Regions from separate parts of the Homo sapiens genome. Here all the other regions are reported to be linked to region 2. The links are microRNA targets in miRTarBase. Many come from high-throughput screens and were not tested one by one. Region 2 holds a microRNA gene; each other region holds the end of a gene's coding sequence.
Evidence for each region. Region 2 holds the annotated microRNA hsa-miR-224-5p (UCAAGUCACUAGUGGUUCCGUUUAG, at 1,123-1,147, shown strand). A microRNA usually pairs through its seed, bases 2 to 8, with sites in the 3' UTR of a target mRNA and lowers its output. Matches are read on the target gene's strand: a 7mer-m8 pairs with bases 2 to 8, a 7mer-A1 pairs with bases 2 to 7 and ends in A, and an 8mer does both.

Region 1 (4,000 bases), not on the chromosome of region 2:
CCAAGGGATTGGCCTCGTCGTCGGGGGGCCCATCTCCAGCCGGCAGCCCCCCGCAGCCCATGCAGTCCACGGCCGGCTTCATGAACGCCTTACACTCCATGACCCCCAGCTACGAGAGCCCGTCCCCACCCGCCTTCGGTAAAGCCCACCAGAATGCCTACGCGCTGCCCTCCAACTACCAGCCCCCTCTCAAAGGCTGCGGCGCCCCGCAGAAGTACCCTCCGACCCCGGCGCCCGAGTATGAGCCGCACGTCCTCCAAGCCAACGGGGGCGCCTACGGGACGCCCACCATGCAGGGCAGTCCGGTGTACGTGGGCGGGGGCGGCTACGCGGATCCGCTGCCGCCCCCTGCCGGCCCCTCCCTCTATGGCCTCAACCACCTTTCCCATCACCCTTCCGGGAACCTGGACTACAACGGGGCGCCCCCTATGGCGCCCAGCCAGCACCACGGACCCTGCGAACCCCACCCCACCTACACAGACCTCTCCTCTCACCACGCGCCTCCTCCTCAGGGTAGAATCCAAGAAGCGCCCAAATTAACACACCTGTGATGGGAAAGGGCGAACGAGGATTAGGGGATGGGGAGGAAGAGAGAGACTGTGGAGCTCTGGGGGGCAACCTGGAGGTCTGAAAAGAGGAGCCAGAGAAGGTGGTACCCAGGCTTCCTGGTCAGAACCGGCCTGGAGCTCCTTCCCTTCCCCCTGGCCTGAGAGGTTGCTTTTAAGTCTTCCACCCCTTGTTCCATCTGCCTGCCAACCCATCGGAAAGGAATCCACATCATATTGGAGATGACCCCATCAACCCCAGGGCTCCAGCACTACCAAGTTGGAATTCCACGCCCGGGAGTGGGGTAGAGGAAGACGAGACAGGACGAGGCAGAAAAGCACATTTTAAAAACCAGACAAGATGGCTAGGCCATCACCAACCAACGGACTTACCTTACATCTTTGTAGGTAATTCCCCCCAAATCTTGATTTTTTTTTTTCCTCAATTATCCTTTAAAAAATAAGAAAACACATTTCAAACCCAAAAGGCACAAAACACGTTCCCTTCCAACTTTCCCAAAACCTCAAATTTGTTCCCATTTGAGGTTTATTGAGGTACACTTCTAGCCCCCGGTTTTTCTGCTCTAGAACATTCATATCTATACATCCCACCCCCATCAATTACAGTTTTTAGAGGGCTCAGGGATGGTGAGAGATCCTGAAAGAGCTGCCTATATTATAAATTATATACATTTTTTTTTAAGGAAAAGTGTGGAGGCTAGGGCAGGCAGGTTGTTAGGACTGAAGGTTTGCCCATTCTGCTGCCTCCATCTCAGCTCCAGCTCCATCCCCCTCTCCACAGAAAGCAGTTGGTGACACGAGGTTCTATACTTTTCTTCTGTTGCTCTCTTGACTTAACGTGAAAACAGGGTATATTTGAACAAACTGTCCCAGGCAGGGGCTGGGCAGGGCCTGTGTGCCTTGCTCAGCCTCCTGACAGGACACTTTTGTTGCACTTAGAATTTACATTTTAATGGATGTAAAAACAACTGTGAGAGATGTCTGGGCCTGCAGAAGTCCAGCATTGCTCAAAAAAGCGTGTGTTCTAGTGAACATTTTCATATATATTTATTGGTTATAGCCTGTTAAAATATTTTCTTTTTTGTATTATTTATCCCCCTACATTATGTATTTATATGAGGGAAAAAAAGGAAAAAATTGTACTTTTTTAGTATTTACCTGTTACAAAGGACATTGTGTTTCCTGTCATGTAAAACCAGCTATTTTAGTTACTATTGTACTCTAGAAAAGAGCTGTAGATTTATGTTAAACTCGTACTTACGAACAATTGTAATTAGTTCTAAAAGGCATGAACTCAGCTCCTAATCGTCACTGTATAGTCCTGAATTTGTAGAACTAGAGTTAATTCCCTCTTGGAACTTTCTTTGTTCTTCAGTAGTTACTTTTTTCCTTACCTAAAAGGGTTGTCTGTCAAACAATTCTTGAATAAACTTTCTGTTATCAATTTTATCTTGTCCTGGTGGTCCAATTTAGATAGCAGAGCAAGGCTGCTGACTGCCAAATTTCCCCCAAGGGAAGAAGGACAAGGACAAGGACACTGAAGACCCTTCCCTGGCCTTTTTGTCCACTGCCCAGGTTCCTGTCTCCCCCTTGATATGTCTTAAGTTTAAATACCATTTTCTCACTCATAAGAGCCTGTAACATTTTGCCAACTTCTTCAGCTGTGGTTTAAGTAGCAAGTTGGGAGGTAACGGGGGACTCTTGGATGCTCTCTGTAGGTTTTTCTGTTTGGCCTGTATGCCTCTAGGTTTTTCATTCATTGACCTTTCGTCTGTTAGCTCCTTTGGCCACAGCGTCCATGCACCCCCCACCCCCCACCCCTTCCCACCACCACCAAGAAAATCTGGCCGATTACGGTTTCTTCCACGAAACCTAAACTTCACAATCCTCTTCCGGAGCCACAAAGAAGGTGTCACGTGACCCGAAGCCCAACCACCATTGGGTCTAAAATGAAAACAAAGAAAAATGATTAATCTAAAAAAAAAAAAAAAACAAAACTGAGGCCTAGACTTCTCAGGTCAAACTTTAAAACTAAGTAAAATTAAATCACTAAATAAAACTCGAGGCGGAGGGAGGGGAAGCACGTTCGATTTCCCCTGCCAGAGAAAGGGGAGAGGAGGGTGGGAGAAGCTGTTGGATCCAAGCGTAAATAAAACGGTCCCCAGGCTAATGTGCGGCTCTGTTTCCATCATCCTTGGGAAAACTTCATTTCTTAGTTGTGGTTCCATAAAAGTTTTATCACATTGGAGTGAAAATAGAGAAGGTCTGTCAAAGATGAAATGTCACCGCCGAGTCGCTGGAGCCGATAAGAGCGAGAAGACAGGGCGGCTGAAATATGGAGCTAATTCGTTGAAAGAGAAGCGATGGCTGCTTGCTGAAGAGCTGCATAATTCTAATTGTAAGCGATGTGCCCGCATTGCTTAATTAGGAGCATATATTTGGTGGTAGTGATGTTGGGGGAGTGAGAATCGTTCCAGGCCCTGCCTTAAAGAGAGGGCTGATTTTCATTTTTATGTTGCATCCTGGCAGTCCAAGGTTAGTAATTATAGTCTTTATGCAACAATAAATAACAATAAAAAAGCAACCTGAACTCTACGCCCTCCCCCTTCCCCACCACCAAGTAGGATTTTAACTGGACTCATCCAAGCAGCAAGCAATTTAGCATTGGGTCAGGCTATAATTTAAAGGCATAAGAGCGTGCAAAGTTTGATTGGGATCAAATAACGCTCAAGGGTTTTTCTTTCTTTCTCTTTCTCTCTTCTTCCTTGAATAACATTTTCTGAATGATATAACTAGATGAAGCACCATGTTTGGCTCTGGGGCTGGGTTGGGTTGTTATTTATCTAGCAGGAAAGAGGCCAAGAAAGAGAATTTAGCTTAAGTTTGAAAAACAGAGCTTTGGCTCGAAGCTGGAATTGCAAACAAGAAAAATAAGAACCAACTTGGCTTGGTGTTCCCTATCCTTCTCTTTGGAAGATTCCAGGCGCTCAGCTAAAGCAGCCAAAGACGTGGGTAAAATATCCGTGCTGTTAAATTCACAGCAGGACAGGGGGGCGGGGGAGGGATGTCTCTGAAAAGGAGGGTTCTCTGGGCCCCTTTTAACACCCAAGTTTTCCGCTGTTTGCTAATCTGGCCATAAAATCTGTCAGTGAGGGTTAGAGAGAGCTGTATTTCCTGCAGGGACAGTCTGCCCGAGTTGCCTGAGATAAGCTCTGGATCCTTCAGCCAGCTACAGAAGCTGTTGCTAAACTTTCAGAGGTGTTCAAGGGGGTGGCCAGAGGGAGAACCCACTCTCAGGCCTCCCTGCATGACTTCCAGACAGCTACTATTTGGATTATTCTATGCCCACCCCCATCCACACCTCTAAATGGCAAAAATTGTTTTCTTTGGAGCCTAGTTGCACACTACTGTCGCTGGCCACTTTGCCCAGGTCA
Region 2 (4,000 bases):
ATACAAATGCTTTGCAGTCATCCCGTGCAAACATTGTAAGACATGGCTCCTGTCTTATAATTGCTAAGCACTTACAACTGTTTGCAGAGGAAACTGAGACTTTGTAACTATGTCTCAGTCTCATCTGCAAAGAAGTAAGTGCTTTGCCAAGCTCCTTGAGAGGTTAGGTAAGTAGATAAAGTTCTGCTGCTGTCGGAATGTGCAGCTGGCTTTTTCATGCAGACCCTTCAGTTTCGAGGTTACAACTCTGACCTCTTTGGATGACTTTGGGGAATGGAGCTCGTGTGAGTTCTCCATACCCAGAACCAATCCAGTCTGGTTGAATGGGAAGCAAAGTCCATTGTAGTGGGAGGTGGAGGCTAGAGTTCTAATGTCAGCTAGTTTAAGGCTGGGAAAGTCTGGAGGAAGTTACAGCAGCTACACTGGCTGCTGCATTGACATTTATCTTAAAGGAACAAGTCTGAAAAGCACAGATTCTTATCAAAGGCTTCATGGTGGATTCCACATAGACATAGTGGCCACTGGTTTTCTGACCTTTTCTCTGACAAAGACTAAAGGGGAAGGTCCTGGGTATCTTACACTTCAGCTCCCAATTAGATGTGAGCACCTTCACTTATGTTCCTAGGTGACCTGAATGAGGAGCCAAGGGACCTCCCCAGGGTAGCTCCCAGAGCAACCCTGGAAACACTCTTCACACATCCTGACCAAGTTCAGGGCAGTGAAGGCACTGCCCTCATCGTTTCCAGAATGTGGATGGAGCCAGTCACCCAACCAGCCATTTGTCGTGAGAGGCATCTTGTTCTGCTACCATGTGACTAGGCAGAAAATCTGCTTTTGTTTCATTTATTGAGTCAGTCTCTGGATGAGGGAAAGCTCATGCTCATGTGGCTAGAGCTTTGCTTGCACAGTATTAGGCAGGGGCAGAGGGCTGGGCTACCTTAAAAATACTTGCCCTTTTTCTTGGGGACTCTGGGGAAGCGGTTTTACTACCTTTGACTTGGGAGCCTTGCTCTTCTGCCAGCTAACCATGGGCCTGCCTCTTGGTTTTCTGCACCTCAGCTTTTCCCGGATAGGTGGGGACCCATCATCAAAAGTGACAGAGAAGATAAGGCCCAGGGGCTTTCAAGTCACTAGTGGTTCCGTTTAGTAGATGATTGTGCATTGTTTCAAAATGGTGCCCTAGTGACTACAAAGCCCCAGAGCCAGCATCATCATCAAAGCAATGACAGTAGGTAAGCACCAGACCTCCTTGGGAGTGAGGAGGATTCTTGAGGAGAAAAGAGGTCTTCTTTCTCCTCTGCTGGAGACTAGTTGATCTGGAGACGTGGTTCCTTCAATGTCAGAGTTATCTTTGGGACTGGTCTCAAACTCTTCCAGTTGGGCCCTGGGGCAGGTCTCTCCATCTGGAGCATACTTACGTGCTCGGCGATTAAGGGTTCAGAATGCAGTGGTAGCCTGCTACTCTGGCCATCTTGGACCTTGATCCAGAGAATCTCTGCTTCAGGAGCTTCTAAGAGAGTCCAGCCCTGCCTCCAGAGAGAGGCTTGCCCTTCACTGATGGCTGTGGAGCCTCTGATGGAATATTATTGCTGGTCAGGAATTCACTGTCTTACAAGGAGGTTTCCTTCTTCTCTAGACAGTTCTGTTCATCAAAAAACTCTCCCTGTTCTTCTGAAATTGGAGTCTCTGGAAGTTCCACACATTAAGCTTAGTTCTTTTTCCTTGGAACTGTCCAGGTTACATTAGTCCAGCCACTGTTTCACAGGACCGAGATTAAACGATCAACATCATCATTCCCGGCATGGATCATAGTCTGTTGTAGTCTACATAGCCCTAGTTTATTTTTCTTCCCTTATTCTTCAAAGCTTTGGGTCCATTCATTCTTCTAGTCCCAGTCCTCTGGACATGGTCTATTTAATTGTGTCCCTCTGACACTGCAGTGACCAACCATGATCTGGTCAAAGAGGATAAGAGTTTGAGCAGAAAACCATCTTTAGCATATATTTTTTTGCTTTGGTTCATCAGCCCCAGATATATTGTTTTCCTTACCCGTGCTTCTCTCACTCCTCAAGAAGAAGAAAGTGTGTGTTAGCATCTTTCTCTTGTCCTTCAAGACAAATTGGCATCTCTTGACGAGCGGAGAAGGTTCTTTTTTGGCCAGAATAAATAAAATTAAAATAGAATCATCCAACAGAATAATAAATCTTCGTGCAACAAGAATATATTATATAAACCCAGCAATTTTGCAGGGCCTGGGTATAACTAATTAGAAGTGTCTTAAATTGCAGTCAAGATCCCACGGCAAGAGGACTTTTGATAAATACATTCTGGCCAGTAGGCAAGTGCGAGGGTGGTCCGTGCAGCAGCTCTGGAGGAGTTCTATCCCAAAGCTATACTCAACACACAGGTTTCCCACTGACAACAGGTCGCTCCCTTGCCTTCTTCCAGAAGAATCTGAGAAGCTTTGCTCCTTGAGTTTCAGTGCTGCCAAGGTGAGTACGAAAGGCTGCTCTTCTCATTCAGCTCCAGCCCACCCAGACCTGCTGGGCAGTTGATCCACTTTCCAAAATAGGAGGACACACGGACAGGTTAGTGTTCTGGTCTGCTTTACAAAGCTGTTGCCTGACAGGAGCAAGAGTTGCTGAGTGTCTGCTGGGTTCCAGGCTGTTCTGAGCTTGGATGGGCAGGGGCTAAGCCACAGGGCCTGCATGAGCCCTGCCTTGAAGGGACTTAAAAGACGACCTAATTATAGGCCTAGGAATTTTACAGTATTGCAACTGCAATGTGATGCTGAAAGTGGAAAATGATGTCCTGGGCTCAGAGAAAAGCCCACACCAGCCTGGGAGTCATGATAGCAGCAGAGTGCTTGGGGAGGGTGTGTCAGAGCATAAAGCAGCATGAATGCTACAAAAGAAGATGCCAACTAGAGATATAGGTTGTCATCAGGTCCCGGAGGAGCCATGACCGTCTAGCTGAGAGCCATGACCAAGGACACAATGTCCAAGTGACTGTGAGGACCTCAGTCTGCCCTGTGGATGTGTATGCCACAGACCTGACTTCTGGAGGGCTGACTGAAATGTTCATTTTAAGCTTTTTCTTCTCTTTCCCTGAAACACTCAGTTTGGGTTAGGGGTCATAGACTAAGACCAAAGAGTCCAGGGTTAGAATCTTGGTGTAAAATTGCAGGCCATCTCAGGAAATCTGTGAGCAGATGGGATTGGCTTTGGGTAAGGTGCGTGTGGAAAATGTCAGTGGGAGCCGGGTCATGGTGGGCCTTTAGCATCAGATTCCAGAGTGCAGATAGTCTGTATAGCTCATGTGAAACAGGGAGCCACCAAAACTTTGGGGAGCAGGCTAGTGCCGGTTTTGACCACCTGTGGAGCAGTGCTCACTCACGAAGGCATTTTGCCATCACATGAATGTGCAGAAAGGAGGCCAAAAGCATTCTGTGCTTCTCCACCACAGCACAGACTTCCCTAGTCTCATTTGCTGAGAGTAGACATTCTGAGGGCCAGCAGTGCAGGTGTGATGTGCCTCAGAGGGTATGAAGCCCTTAGTCAGCCATCTGGATATCAGCTGCGTGGGCATGATATCTAGAAGGCTAATTGATTTTTTCACTTTCACCTGACTCTCTTGCCAACCTGCAGAGACAGACATTGGGTGTAGGACAGTGAACTGAGAAGGAAGCTATTAAGATTCTGGCCTTGGCTTAGCTCTCAACTGGCCATTGGTCTTGCAGTAAGTCTTTTTTCTGGGCTTCTTCTGGTCCTATTTGTATGTATTGCATTGTCACATCATGCCTCTATCCTAGGGAATACTGTGAGCTGAAAAATGAGACCCTTACTGTTCACGTCCTGCTAAGGGGGACCGTCGTGTCAGCACTGTAATGCAGTGATGTTTTTTGTGTCTTTCAGGTGACTTCATGGTCATGACGATTTTCTTCAATGTGAGCAGGCGGTTTGGCTATGTTGCCTTTCAAAACTATGTCCCTTCTTCCGTG
Region 3 (4,196 bases), not on the chromosome of region 2:
TACTAAAAATACAAAAATTAGCCGGGCATGGTGGCGCATGCCTGTAGACCCAGCTACTTGGGAGGCTGAGGCAGGAGAATCGCTTGAACCTGGGAGGCAGATGTTGCAGTGAGCCAAAATCACACCATTGCACTCCAGCCTGTGTGACAAGAGTGAAACCCTGTCTCTAAAAAAAAAGAAAAAGAAAAAAAATACAAGTCCTTCCTTAGTTCCCACACCCCCACTCCCCAGATTTAACTGTTAAGCATTTGGCATTTATCCTTCCAGGCCTTTCTGGGTGGAAATGCAGCCTGCATGCACCAGTATGCAAAGCTTCCAGCTCTGCCCATCCCAGCTGGTGGTGTGGCAGCCCCACTCTGATCTATGGGGACTCCATCCTGACTGGTTGGTGCTTGCATCTCTCCTGCCTACATATAACTCACCATTTCACTTTCTCTTTCCATCAACAACATATCCTGTGCTTCTGCATCCTTCCATGACAGTGTGTATAAATGTACGTTGTTGGTGTTCACTGCTCCGTGGTGTGCCACAAGTCTGGGTGCATTGTCGTACCTTACATATTGCTAGACTTCTTGCCCCAGATGACAGGTGTGCCCTTCCTTTCACTAAAAGATGCTTTTGTCCCTTCTTCTTTAGAATCTGAAAGCGGCTGATACTGACCCCACAGCCCCGCCTTATGATTCTCTGCTCGTGTTTGACTATGAAGGAAGCGGTTCCGAAGCTGCTAGTCTGAGCTCCCTGAACTCCTCAGAGTCAGACAAAGACCAGGACTATGACTACTTGAACGAATGGGGCAATCGCTTCAAGAAGCTGGCTGACATGTACGGAGGCGGCGAGGACGACTAGGGGACTCGAGAGAGGCGGGCCCCAGACCCATGTGCTGGGAAATGCAGAAATCACGTTGCTGGTGGTTTTTCAGCTCCCTTCCCTTGAGATGAGTTTCTGGGGAAAAAAAAGAGACTGGTTAGTGATGCAGTTAGTATAGCTTTATACTCTCTCCACTTTATAGCTCTAATAAGTTTGTGTTAGAAAAGTTTCGACTTATTTCTTAAAGCTTTTTTTTTTTTCCCATCACTCTTTACATGGTGGTGATGTCCAAAAGATACCCAAATTTTAATATTCCAGAAGAACAACTTTAGCATCAGAAGGTTCACCCAGCACCTTGCAGATTTTCTTAAGGAATTTTGTCTCACTTTTAAAAAGAAGGGGAGAAGTCAGCTACTCTAGTTCTGTTGTTTTGTGTATATAATTTTTTAAAAAAAATTTGTGTGCTTCTGCTCATTACTACACTGGTGTGTCCCTCTGCCTTTTTTTTTTTTTTAAGACAGGGTCTCATTCTATCGGCCAGGCTGGAGTGCAGTGGTGCAATCACAGCTCACTGCAGCCTTGTCCTCCCAGGCTCAAGCTATCCTTGCACCTCAGCCTCCCAAGTAGCTGGGACCACAGGCATGCACCACTACGCATGACTAATTTTTTAAATATTTGAGACGGGGTCTCCCTGTGTTACCCAGGCTGGTCTCAAACTCCTGGGCTCAAGTGATCCTCCCATCTTGGCCTCCCAGAGTATTGGGATTACAGACATGAGCCACTGCACCTGCCCAGCTCCCCAACTCCCTGCCATTTTTTAAGAGACAGTTTCGCTCCATCGCCCAGGCCTGGGATGCAGTGATGTGATCATAGCTCACTGTAACCTCAAACTCTGGGGCTCAAGCAGTTCTCCCACCAGCCTCCTTTTTATTTTTTTGTACAGATGGGGTCTTGCTATGTTGCCCAAGCTGGTCTTAAACTCCTGGCCTCAAGCAATCCTTCTGCCTTGGCCCCCCAAAGTGCTGGGATTGTGGGCATGAGCTGCTGTGCCCAGCCTCCATGTTTTAATATCAACTCTCACTCCTGAATTCAGTTGCTTTGCCCAAGATAGGAGTTCTCTGATGCAGAAATTATTGGGCTCTTTTAGGGTAAGAAGTTTGTGTCTTTGTCTGGCCACATCTTGACTAGGTATTGTCTACTCTGAAGACCTTTAATGGCTTCCCTCTTTCATCTCCTGAGTATGTAACTTGCAATGGGCAGCTATCCAGTGACTTGTTCTGAGTAAGTGTGTTCATTAATGTTTATTTAGCTCTGAAGCAAGAGTGATATACTCCAGGACTTAGAATAGTGCCTAAAGTGCTGCAGCCAAAGACAGAGCGGAACTATGAAAAGTGGGCTTGGAGATGGCAGGAGAGCTTGTCATTGAGCCTGGCAATTTAGCAAACTGATGCTGAGGATGATTGAGGTGGGTCTACCTCATCTCTGAAAATTCTGGAAGGAATGGAGGAGTCTCAACATGTGTTTCTGACACAAGATCCGTGGTTTGTACTCAAAGCCCAGAATCCCCAAGTGCCTGCTTTTGATGATGTCTACAGAAAATGCTGGCTGAGCTGAACACATTTGCCCAATTCCAGGTGTGCACAGAAAACCGAGAATATTCAAAATTCCAAATTTTTTTCTTAGGAGCAAGAAGAAAATGTGGCCCTAAAGGGGGTTAGTTGAGGGGTAGGGGGTAGTGAGGATCTTGATTTGGATCTCTTTTTATTTAAATGTGAATTTCAACTTTTGACAATCAAAGAAAAGACTTTTGTTGAAATAGCTTTACTGTTTCTCAAGTGTTTTGGAGAAAAAAATCAACCCTGCAATCACTTTTTGGAATTGTCTTGATTTTTCGGCAGTTCAAGCTATATCGAATATAGTTCTGTGTAGAGAATGTCACTGTAGTTTTGAGTGTATACATGTGTGGGTGCTGATAATTGTGTATTTTCTTTGGGGGTGGAAAAGGAAAACAATTCAAGCTGAGAAAAGTATTCTCAAAGATGCATTTTTATAAATTTTATTAAACAATTTTGTTAAACCATTGTCAAATTTGTTTTATTTGATTCCACCACATTTCCAGTCAAGAGAAAAGATGCATGGAGATGGCCTCAGTCAAAACGTGGAGAAAGAGGCCGGGCGCGGTGGCTCATGCCTGTAATCTCAGCACTTCGGGAGGCCGAGGCAGGTAGATCACTTGAGCTCAGGAGTTTGAGACCAGCCTGGGCAACGTAGTGAAACCCTGTCTCCACAAAAACACAAAAATTAGCTGGGCGTGGTGGCGCGCGCCTGTAGTCCCAGCTACTCGAGAGGCTGAGACATGAGAATCACTTGAACTCAGGAGGCAGAGGTTGCAGTGAGCCGAGGTTGCGCCACTGCACTTCAGCCTAGGTGACAGAGGAGACTCCATCTCAAAAAAATAAAAAAATTTTTAAAAAACTTCATGCTGAAGTGACTTCTCCAGAAGTTTCTATCATTCTACTGGATGAACATGGGAGAAACTACATTCACATGGTAACTTTATTTGAACAGTATCCATCCATGTGGCATGTGATGAAACCAATAAAATTCCCATGTCCACGGGAGACTGTGTGGGCCAAGCTGAAGGACGGGACAGAGCAAAGTTTCAAACGATGTTCTCGGGGTCAGCAAGTGAGTACAGGCCAGTGGTTCTCTGCTGGGGAAGAATGTAGCCCCCTCCTCCATGTGACATTTTGCAATTTCTGGAGTACCTGGGGAGGTGGTCTTGTCACCACATCAAGGCCAGGGGTGCTGCTAAACATCCCTGCACGGGACAGTTCCTCACAACAAAGAATTATCCAGCACAAAATGTCAGCCACTGTTAAGAAACCCTGGTGTAAGCCTAAAACTTTTCTCTGTTGAAGGGGTATGACTTTTTTCTTTGGGTAATTTTTTATTGTAAAATACAACATAAAATTTATGATTTTAGCCCTTTTGTTAAGTTTTCAGACAGGGTCTCACTCTGTCACCCGGGCTGGAGTGCAGTGGCACAATCACGGCTCGCTGCAGCCTCAATCTCCCAGTCACAAATGATCCTCCTCTCTCAGCCTCCCTAGTAGCTGGGACTACAGGTGTTGCACCACTACGCCCAGCTAATTTTAAAAATTGTTTTGTAGAGACAGGGATCTTGCTATGATGCACAGGCTGGTCTTGAACTCCTGGGCTCAAGTGATCTGCCCTCCTTGGCCTCCCAAAGTACTGGGATTACAGGAGTGAGCCACCACGTTGGCCTCATTGTAGCCATTTTTAAGTATACAGTTCAATGACATTAAGTATATTCAAATTGTGTTGCAACCATCACCACTATCTTCAGAACTTTTTCATCATCCCAG
Region 4 (4,183 bases), not on the chromosome of region 2:
GGGAGTGGCGGGGGGCGCTGCACCTGCTCCAGCCGCACGTGGCCCCTGCCCAGCAGCCTGTCCTGTGGGCTCAGAGAGCCCTGGTGGGGGGAGGCCAAGGGACTGGGGCATAGACCCCTGTCCCACCAGTCCCCAGAGCAGCCCCTTGAACACCCCCAGGGGCCTTTCCACCGGGGCAGGCAGGAGTTACTGGGCGGGTCGCCTGCATTGTCCAGGGTGGTGGAGGGGCAGGGGTGGCCGGTGGGAAGCAGCGCCCCTGCTGGAGCCCCTGGATGTCTCTGAGGCCTGGCTGCAGCAGGGGCACCGTGGGTGGGTGGGGGCCACTGTTCCTGCTCTGTAGGCTCTGTGCCCAGCCCTGGGGGCCTCTCCTCTCACCCTGGGCCTTCGCAGGGCAGCCATGCCAGAGGCCTGCCCTGGAAGGCTGTGGCTGTGGAGCTGAGTGGATAGAGGCCGGCAGAGGGCTGAGCAGAGGGAGCAGCGGTGGGTGCAGAGCCCCAGGTTGGAGGCCTGGGCCGTGACAGTAGTGCCCTGGGGCTACAGTGGGATTGGCACCGCAGCTCACCTGGGGAGGGAGGGGAGCTGCGGCCCGTCAGGCATGCAGTGGGCTGGGGGTCGAGCTGGGTGGGCCGTGGGCCTTACTCGCTCATCCCCTGGGAGTGACAAAGGGGCCCACGAGTCCCTTGCCCTGGGCCGGGCTGGGGCACAGCCTCACCCTCTGCCCTCCCCCAGGTCCCCAGCGGGACGCCCAGGCGGCGCGGGAGTTCATCCTGAAGATGTTCGTGGACCTGAACCCCGACAGCGACAAGATCATCTACTCACACTTCACGTGTGCCACCGACACGGAGAACATCCGCTTCGTGTTCGCGGCCGTGAAGGACACCATCCTGCAGCTCAACCTCAAGGAGTACAACCTGGTCTGAGCGCCCAGGCCCAGGGAGACGGGATGGAGACACGGGGCAGGACCTTCCTTCCACGGAGCCTGCGGCTGCCGGGCGGGTGGCGCTGCCGAGTCCGGGCCGGGGCCTCTGCCCGCGGGAGGAGATTTTTTTTTTTCATATTTTTAACAAATGGTTTTTATTTCACAGTTATCAGGGGATGTACATCTCTCCCTCCGTACACTTCGCGCACCTTCTCACCTTTTGTCAACGGCAAAGGCAGCCTTTTTCTGGCCTTGACTTATGGCTCGCTTTTTTCTAAAAAAAAAAAAAAAAGAAAGAAAGAAAAAAAGCAACGAAACATAAAACACACAAGCGCCCCGTGCCCCCAGTGACTCTGGGCCTCACAGAGCCCCCGCCAGCCAGCATGGGGCCCCGCCCTGCAGCCAGTCACGCGCCCCCACACCGCAGCCCCCCGTGGCTGTCCTTCCAACCCCACGTGCTTTTTCTTTCTCCTGCCCGCTTCTTTTCTTCATCACAAAAGGCGTGGAGACTCGGAGACGGACGTTTTTCCCCTTTTTTAAGTTATTGACGCCCAGCGCGCCTCGCCTCTTCACCCATCAACGCTGTGCTTTGCCCACTGGACTCCTGAAGAGGGGGTGGGGGGCTCCCTCGGTCGCCCACCCTGGGAAGTGCCTAACCTTTTATTTTATTTTATTTTTTTGAGGAAAAAGAACGCCTGACTCACAGGTTGAAGAAACACCCTGGGCCCTCTCTCATGGCCGGGTTCCCCGTCCCTCTGCAGAGGCTGGGAAGGGTCCCCGGGCTGGAGCCACGGGGGCTTCTCTGGGCTGTGCCTCCGGGGCCAACACTGGCTGCTTGGGGCTGCCCGGGGACTCCAGAGGGCTGCACGGCCACCCTGCCCTGGCTAGAGCGCACCCCACCGGAGCCCACGTGGGCTGGGCGGCTGGAGGGATGGTCCCCCGGTGACACTGGGAGAAAGGCCACTTGGATGGGGGCGTTTCTGTTTTGTTCCGCTTTGTGATGTCACCAATTTGGAAACAGCGAGGGTGGGTGGGGACTTTTACAGAATATTCTCAGGTGTGTACCCGAGAGGCAGAGAGAGGGACGTGGCCGGCAGCTCTGTGCGTGGCCTTGTCCCAAGCACTTGCGCCCGCCCCCGAGCGCCGCCCCCGGGGAGCGGGAAGCCAGCACTCGCACTTTGGCCAGGGGCGCGTGGAAGGTGGTGGCAGGCACCGGCCTGGGCAGCTTCCAGGCCTGGCTGGCCACGACCACGGCCCGAGGGGGAGCCCGCCAGGCCACGCCGCACTGAGCCACAGCCCCGGGGGCCGCCTCCCGGGGCCCCTTGAGGCACTGAGGCACCGAGACTGGTTCTCCCCGAGAGACTCGGAAGGTGGGGAACGAGGGGACTGTGTTTGGGGAGGTGGCTTTTTCGTCTGCTGTTGACTGAACACTACAGCGCCCTGTGGTTCCGGGCTTCGCACAGCTGTCCCAGGGATGGATCGCCTGTGCTGCCTTCGCCCGCCGCCACACCGGGACCCTGCACGGCTGCTTCTGGCCTCGACAGATGACAAAAGAAACAGCCCCAAAATACGACCACTCCAACCAGCAGTTCCCGCCTGCCTGCCCGCCACTGTCAGGCCTGCCCTGGCCTCCTCGTCCGCAGGGCTGTCTGCTGGCTTCTGGGGGCAGAAGAGCGGGGAGCCCCGTGGAAGGGTCAGGGGAGACCAGGTCAGGGCAGCTACATTTCTGGTGATCAGCCCCATGGGGAGACGGGGCTGGCGGGATACCCCCCCCCCGGCTTCCCCACACCACTTCTGTCTCACCCGGAAGCGTCCTTTTTTTGTGCCAGGTGTCTACCTAAGAGGGTTGGTGCCAGAAGCCCCCCATGGCGAGTGCTGGGGCCCGGCGGTGCCCTGGGGGAGCAGATGGGGCCACCCCTGGCAGGGCCGCTACAACCTTTTCCAGCAGCGGAGCCCTCTGGGGGGCCTGTGCTTGTGGCATCTCTGAGGGCCTAGATTGCACAAGGTGACCTGGCCGTGGCCTGAGGGTGGAGTCGCCCAGCACGCAGGCCGGGGCGCTGCGGGGCTAAGTATTAGGCCTTCCCAGGGAGGGGGCGTGCCAAGCATCCCAGAGCCGGGCTGGGACCGCCAAAACGTCGTGGCCTGGATCCTCTGGGTCTGAGTGCCTGATCCCCTGCCCCCCAAAAAAGCAGAGGTAGGTGTTGCAGGCCCAGGGCAGGGGTGCCTGCCCCAGGAGAGTCCCAGGCAGTGGTTCTCGTGCCAGTGGCACCCAGGGGCAAGGACAGCCAACCCCCACCCTTGCCACGTGTGGGGCCACGTGGGCATGTGGGGTGTGTGTTTTTACCTTGGTGAATCTCACCTGCCAACGATTTCTCGTGAGTGCCGACCACCTTCTCCGACCATGTTACGCCCGGGCGGCAGCAGCCCCCGGCCACTGCAAACCCATGCCCTGGGTCCCCCGGCTCCCCCAGGGAGGCATCCCCGTGCCAATGTCCCCCAGTGGTGGCAGCAGATCCTGTGGCCGGCCTGGCGGACGGGACCCAGTGATACTTGTATATTACACAGTCCTGATTTCAGACAATTTCAACCTTAATCTATTTAAAAAAGAATATTCTATACAAGCTGTTTTTAAGCCTTTTACCATTTGAAATGCATGTGTTGTGCGCGTTGGGGATGGGAGGAGGGGCTGAGGAGCGGCTCAGTGTCACCTCCCACAGCCACCGGCCCTGACCCTTAATCCAGACACCGATGGAAGTCGACTTTTCATATCTTTCTCCTGAAATGAACTCTGTTTTAAATTGGAATAAATTTTGTTCCTAAATGCTGGCGGCCCCCTTCTGGTTTATTTCCTGTTGTCCTTCAAAGGGGGCTGGGGGGAAGTGTGCAGAGGCCTGGCCCCCAGGAGCCCTGGAGTTACCTAGGGCATTGCCTGACCTCAGTGGGGCCGCCTGGGTGCCTCCGCACGGTGTCCCGGGGCCCCTCCCCTGTCATCTTGTTTGACCCTTCACTTCAAGTTCATTTCACTAGCACCAGGCCAGAGCAACCTGCTTGGGAAATGCCACCTTGTTTGGGGGCTGGGGACAAGGGAGTGAGACGGGGAGGAGCCCAGGTCCCAGGCCAGCCTGCCCCTCACCTTCCAGGGCACCTGTGGGGACATCATGCCCTCCGGGCCTCCGTTTCTGTAAGCTGCGGATGTGGGACCTCTGCAGCCTTCCTTCAGTTATTTTTTCCTTTTGAAAAAAAATTGTAAAATACAGATAAATT
Region 5 (4,192 bases), not on the chromosome of region 2:
TGAAGGCCACAAACCACTGTAATGTCTAAGATTTTCTGCCCCACAAGAGCTCATTTGTGTCCCTTTGGAGATATCTTCCCCATTGAAAATGTATGCTAGAGTACTTTCTCTCAATTCTACGCCAGTGAAATAAATCAGGTCGACTCTACTGGCTTAAGTTATTGGTTGTCCCAGACAAGTAAGAAAGTTATAATCCCCACCTTTTTTTTCTACTTTATGTAGTCCTGCTTCAAATTATTTTTATACAGAAAGGAATTCACCCTCTTTTCTTCCTAGATTAACAAAATTAAGAAGTTTGTCATTTTGTTTCATTTTATTTTTAATTGAGAGGCCCGTAGGAGTGATGCACTGATTAAAACTTGCTTTCCATTAGCCAGGTAGGATTTTGATGCCCACTTGCTTTCCCAGATGTTGATGTTGGTAGCGATACTTCCAGAATAAATATTAAACTATCTAAGAAATGTTAATATTTGCTATTATTCTCATTAAAATCCAGTTCAGATCTATTTCTCTGTTACTTTGACAGTGCCATATTGGTGCTGCCAAGCCTTCACATATGATCATCCCGCCTTTAAACTCTCTCCCCTGAACTTGGGTGGACCACACATCCCTGTGTGTGCTGCTGCTTCATTGAGACAATGGTTGTGATCTCTCTCCATGCCTCATTCCTTCCCCTTCTCTCTCCCATCCCTCCTTCTCCTAACCACACAGCACAACATGCCCTTCTGGAGGATATCCAGTCACTCAGACCTCCTGGCTCTCCACCAAGCACTGGAATTAGAGTATTTGTAACTGTGTTCTTTAGCCGGAGATCCATTTTTTATATTTCAAGTACACTGAATTTTTATGTGTGATTCAATGCCTCTGGCTCTACACATATAAATTGTCTTAATGGATGAAATCATATTTGGAATAAAAATTCCAGAATGAAGAATTCAGATTGCTGAATGGAGTTAAACTTTAGTGCTACAGAAAAGAAACTCTATGGTCTTATATTTACAACACTTTAATGGGTTTTTTAAAAATCTGTGGAGGTTGCTGGTACACACCAAATGAGTCCAAACTGGAATGAGCAGCTTTAGCAAAGAACTCTTACCCTGGCAAAGCAGCAACACACATGCTCCGTCTGACAAGGTGGTCAACAACATTCCTCAAAATGGGAGATCTTCTCAGCCCTGAGGTTTGAATCTGACTTTAGCCTACCTAACCCAGAAAATCTGAATTGGAATGCACTCAGACTGTATAAGGACAGTCCTATTTAGACATGTAATTTGTGTAAATTATTGATGAAAATAATTTACTGTGACTTTATTAGCAGCTGACTTTCAAAGTGGATGCAATTTTTCTTTCTTTTGTTGGGGAGGGGAATGGGAGGGGAAATGGGAATATAATATTGTCTCTTTTTTAAGTTTGGCAAACAGAATGTTCATACTGATGTGTTGTGCCTTAAAGACAAGACAGCATTTGTGTGTTACAATGTAACTTTGGTTAAAATCTCTGTAGATAATGAAAAAAAACAAAAAAAAAAACCTTTGTGATGATTCTTAACATGACCAAATTTAAAAGTCAAGCTCTCAGAGCTTAATTACCGCATCAGCAAGAAACTGAGTATTTTTTGCAATAAGAAAACAACAATAATAAAGGAAAGCTTGTGTTTCATTTGGGTTCTTAATAATTCCAATAATTGTATGAGGCAACTATTTGCGCATCCAACCATGAGTGGAAGGTTTGGGAAAGACTGTGGGACCTTTACTTAGAAAGTGAAATGTATGTAGAAGTCTCAAGTACCCCTTCTACAGTTTTACTGGAGAAAACTAAGAGCCATATTCATGACAACTTGCACAGTTTTGAGGTTGAGACTTTTGATATGTGTAAGTTGCATAGAGGAGGATATTATCATGCAAATCATGAGCAATTATCACATAAACTTTTTTAGAATGTGCCATGAACATGGCATAAAATTCACATTGAGTGCACAGGGCTTAAAATAAAGCTAAGTATGTTTATTCCCAATGCCATGGCAAAAATGATAATATCATCAGAAATGGAAGGCAGTTCTCCCAGATGGTGTCTAATGAAAGCAATGAGTCTATGAAAATTTTACCTAGAATATCATCATAAATTAAATTAGCAAGTGCGCTGGATCTTGGCAGCGCTGCTGAAATGACAACAGTAAAATAATACCTGGTTCTCCATCTGAATACATCAATGCAGGTTCTCCTCGTAACAGACTTGCATATGTTTGTTAGTTTCTGCCTGTATTGTCACTGCGCAACGGATGGCATTCATTACAAGAAGAGCCCATCATCGTTGTGTTTGCATGGTTTTTTTCCTTGTGTGTAGCCCATGTTGGGAACACGATACAGGTTCTCCTCTTATTTCCTATGACACGATTTCCCTTGTGGAAATTTAAGACTTTAAGAACTAGAGTATTTTTATGGTGTCTGCACCTGCAGTTCTGTGTTTAAAATGTCATAATGTGGATCCTGGAGTCAGGCTACTAGTCAGTGCCCCTAGCCAGAGGCTGGTTCATGAGTTCATCAACTGAGGCCTCTGTGGCTTCAATAAAGTCTACATTTTGCTCACAGATCACAACATTCACTGTGGAAATATGATTTCATTTCTTTAGGCTACAAACCTGTATTTCTTTACTGAATGCTAAGGCCATGTTTATATTGGGTAGAAAGATATTGAGATCCCAATTTTGTACAAGATTGTGATTTCATTATCTAAACCTTAAACTTAATCCTTTAAATTTTGTAGCTTTTGGCTGCATCTGCCCCAAGTACTATTCCAGGCAAATTAAAGTTGGAATACCTTTAATAATATAAAAATAATGATAGTAAATCTTATACTTCTGTTGGCCCTTAGCTTGAAAATAGCAGTTAAAAAAATTTAAATGTTGCCTTGATTATCAGTACTTAATTATGTTGTGCACTAAAACCTTAAATATTTATTACTGTGAATAAAAACAAATTATCTTTACTGTATAGCTGGTTTCTTTAAATGTTGATAGAATTGTGGCATTACATCTAAATTTGTAAGTCTTTTCATATCAAACAAGCAAGGCTTTTTATGCTGCTAAGTCTGTGGGTGCAGAAAGAAACACCCCTTGGAAGGGCAAAGAGAAGCCGGCTGGTTGCATCACCCCGTGCAGTTTCTCACACACATCTCTTTTTCTGATTCTGTGTTCAGAAGAGGCTGCCGGCATAAAACCTAAATGCAAGGTTGACGGAGAACAGCTTGTCTGGCACAACAATGGTGCAGGCCCACGAGCCAGCATCACAGCTTGGCCATGGGACGTTGAGTATGCACAAACTAGAACTCTTCCCTTCCCACCTTAGGAATAGAAAATCCTCTTCCTTTCTAATCTGAAAAACGAAAACTGAACAAACACAAAACCAACCCCTTGGCAGTTCCCACCTCCTATTGACATATGGAATATTGTGCCTTATTGTAAACCAGTTTGAAAAATGTTCTGTAACTAAAGTGGGTTTTCGGCTATTATGTATACAGCTTGGTATATTACTACGAAAGATAACCACCTTGTGTTGCACCTTAAAAATATCAAGACCATGTAATTTCCATAACAAAATAGGTGGCCTGGCTATGGTATTATAGCATACAATTAGGACACTATGCCCCTGCAAAATTTTGTAAATCAAATTCAGAGGCAAAAACATATTTTAGAATCATACAGTTTGCACACGACAAGTAGGTAATAACTGTCTCTAAAAATGTTTTCTCCTTAGTCCGCAATGAGCTAAGATTCAGAATAGTGTCAACAGCATGCTCCTATATGAAGTTGTTTTTTTTAAAGCACATTTGTTTATGACAAGCCTACATTCTCAGTGAATATGGCATTTAGTATTTCTTTTGAAAACAAACTTAAGCATCATGAGCCAAAGTTGCACTTTGACTCCCAACTACGGTAGCATTATGGACATCTCACAATGTCAAGGGTTTCTGTTATGTATTAGTAAAGTATAGATTATTGGGGCCTACATAATTTAAAAGAAATGTAAATTAATATTAAAAGCTTGTAAAAATATGTATATCTTTACTATTTCTCAATAAATACCTTTGCAATTGTTTTCATTTCCTTCACCCTCCCATGTTGTAGAGTTTTTGTGTGTTTATTTAGCTTGGTTCTAAATCATGTGAAATTTGTATTTAGGTTTCTGGTCTTCAT

Region 1: miRTarBase lists HOXB3 as a target of hsa-miR-224-5p. The part of its 3' UTR that is shown has no 7-base or 8-base seed match.
Region 3: the mRNA of CDH1 is a reported target of hsa-miR-224-5p. Seed matches in the 3' UTR shown: 7mer-m8 at 2,076-2,082.
Region 4: miRTarBase lists GNA11 as a target of hsa-miR-224-5p. The part of its 3' UTR that is shown has no 7-base or 8-base seed match.
Region 5: miRTarBase lists EYA4 as a target of hsa-miR-224-5p. The part of its 3' UTR that is shown has no 7-base or 8-base seed match.

What each region holds. Positions count from the first base shown.
Region 1 is chr17:48,546,885-48,550,884 of GRCh38, reverse strand. It overlaps HOXB3 (homeobox B3), which reads left to right. Exons shown (of 5, transcript NM_001384749.1): 5 at 1-2,015. The coding sequence ends at 551. It overlaps HOXB-AS1 (HOXB cluster antisense RNA 1), which reads right to left. Exons shown (of 7, transcript NR_102279.1): 4 at 2,422-2,510; 5 at 939-996; 6 at 483-545. Among named protein-coding and RNA genes, the nearest start is that of HOXB2, 3.8 kb to the right of the region's middle.
Region 2 is chrX:151,955,775-151,959,774 of GRCh38, reverse strand. MIR224 (microRNA 224) reads left to right here and starts at 1,117; the gene lies at 1,117-1,197. GABRE (gamma-aminobutyric acid type A receptor subunit epsilon) reads left to right here. Exons shown (of 9, transcript NM_004961.4): 7 at 3,915-4,000. It overlaps MIR452 (microRNA 452), which reads left to right and starts at 63; the gene lies at 63-147.
Region 3 is chr16:68,832,654-68,836,849 of GRCh38, forward strand. CDH1 (cadherin 1) reads left to right here. Exons shown (of 16, transcript NM_004360.5): 16 at 637-2,884. The coding sequence ends at 846. Among named protein-coding and RNA genes, the nearest start is that of TANGO6, 8.8 kb to the right of the region's middle.
Region 4 is chr19:3,120,260-3,124,442 of GRCh38, forward strand. It overlaps GNA11 (G protein subunit alpha 11), which reads left to right. Exons shown (of 7, transcript NM_002067.5): 7 at 730-3,740. The coding sequence ends at 920. LOC124904615 (a long non-coding RNA gene) reads right to left here. Exons shown (of 3, transcript XR_007067092.1): 3 at 4,053-4,149. Among named protein-coding and RNA genes, the nearest start is that of GNA15, 14 kb to the right of the region's middle.
Region 5 is chr6:133,528,014-133,532,205 of GRCh38, forward strand. EYA4 (EYA transcriptional coactivator and phosphatase 4) reads left to right here. Exons shown (of 20, transcript NM_004100.5): 20 at 712-4,115. The coding sequence ends at 792. The region is part of intron 6 of TARID (TCF21 antisense RNA inducing promoter demethylation); the gene reads right to left. Among named protein-coding and RNA genes, the nearest start is that of EYA4-AS2, 74 kb to the left of the region's middle.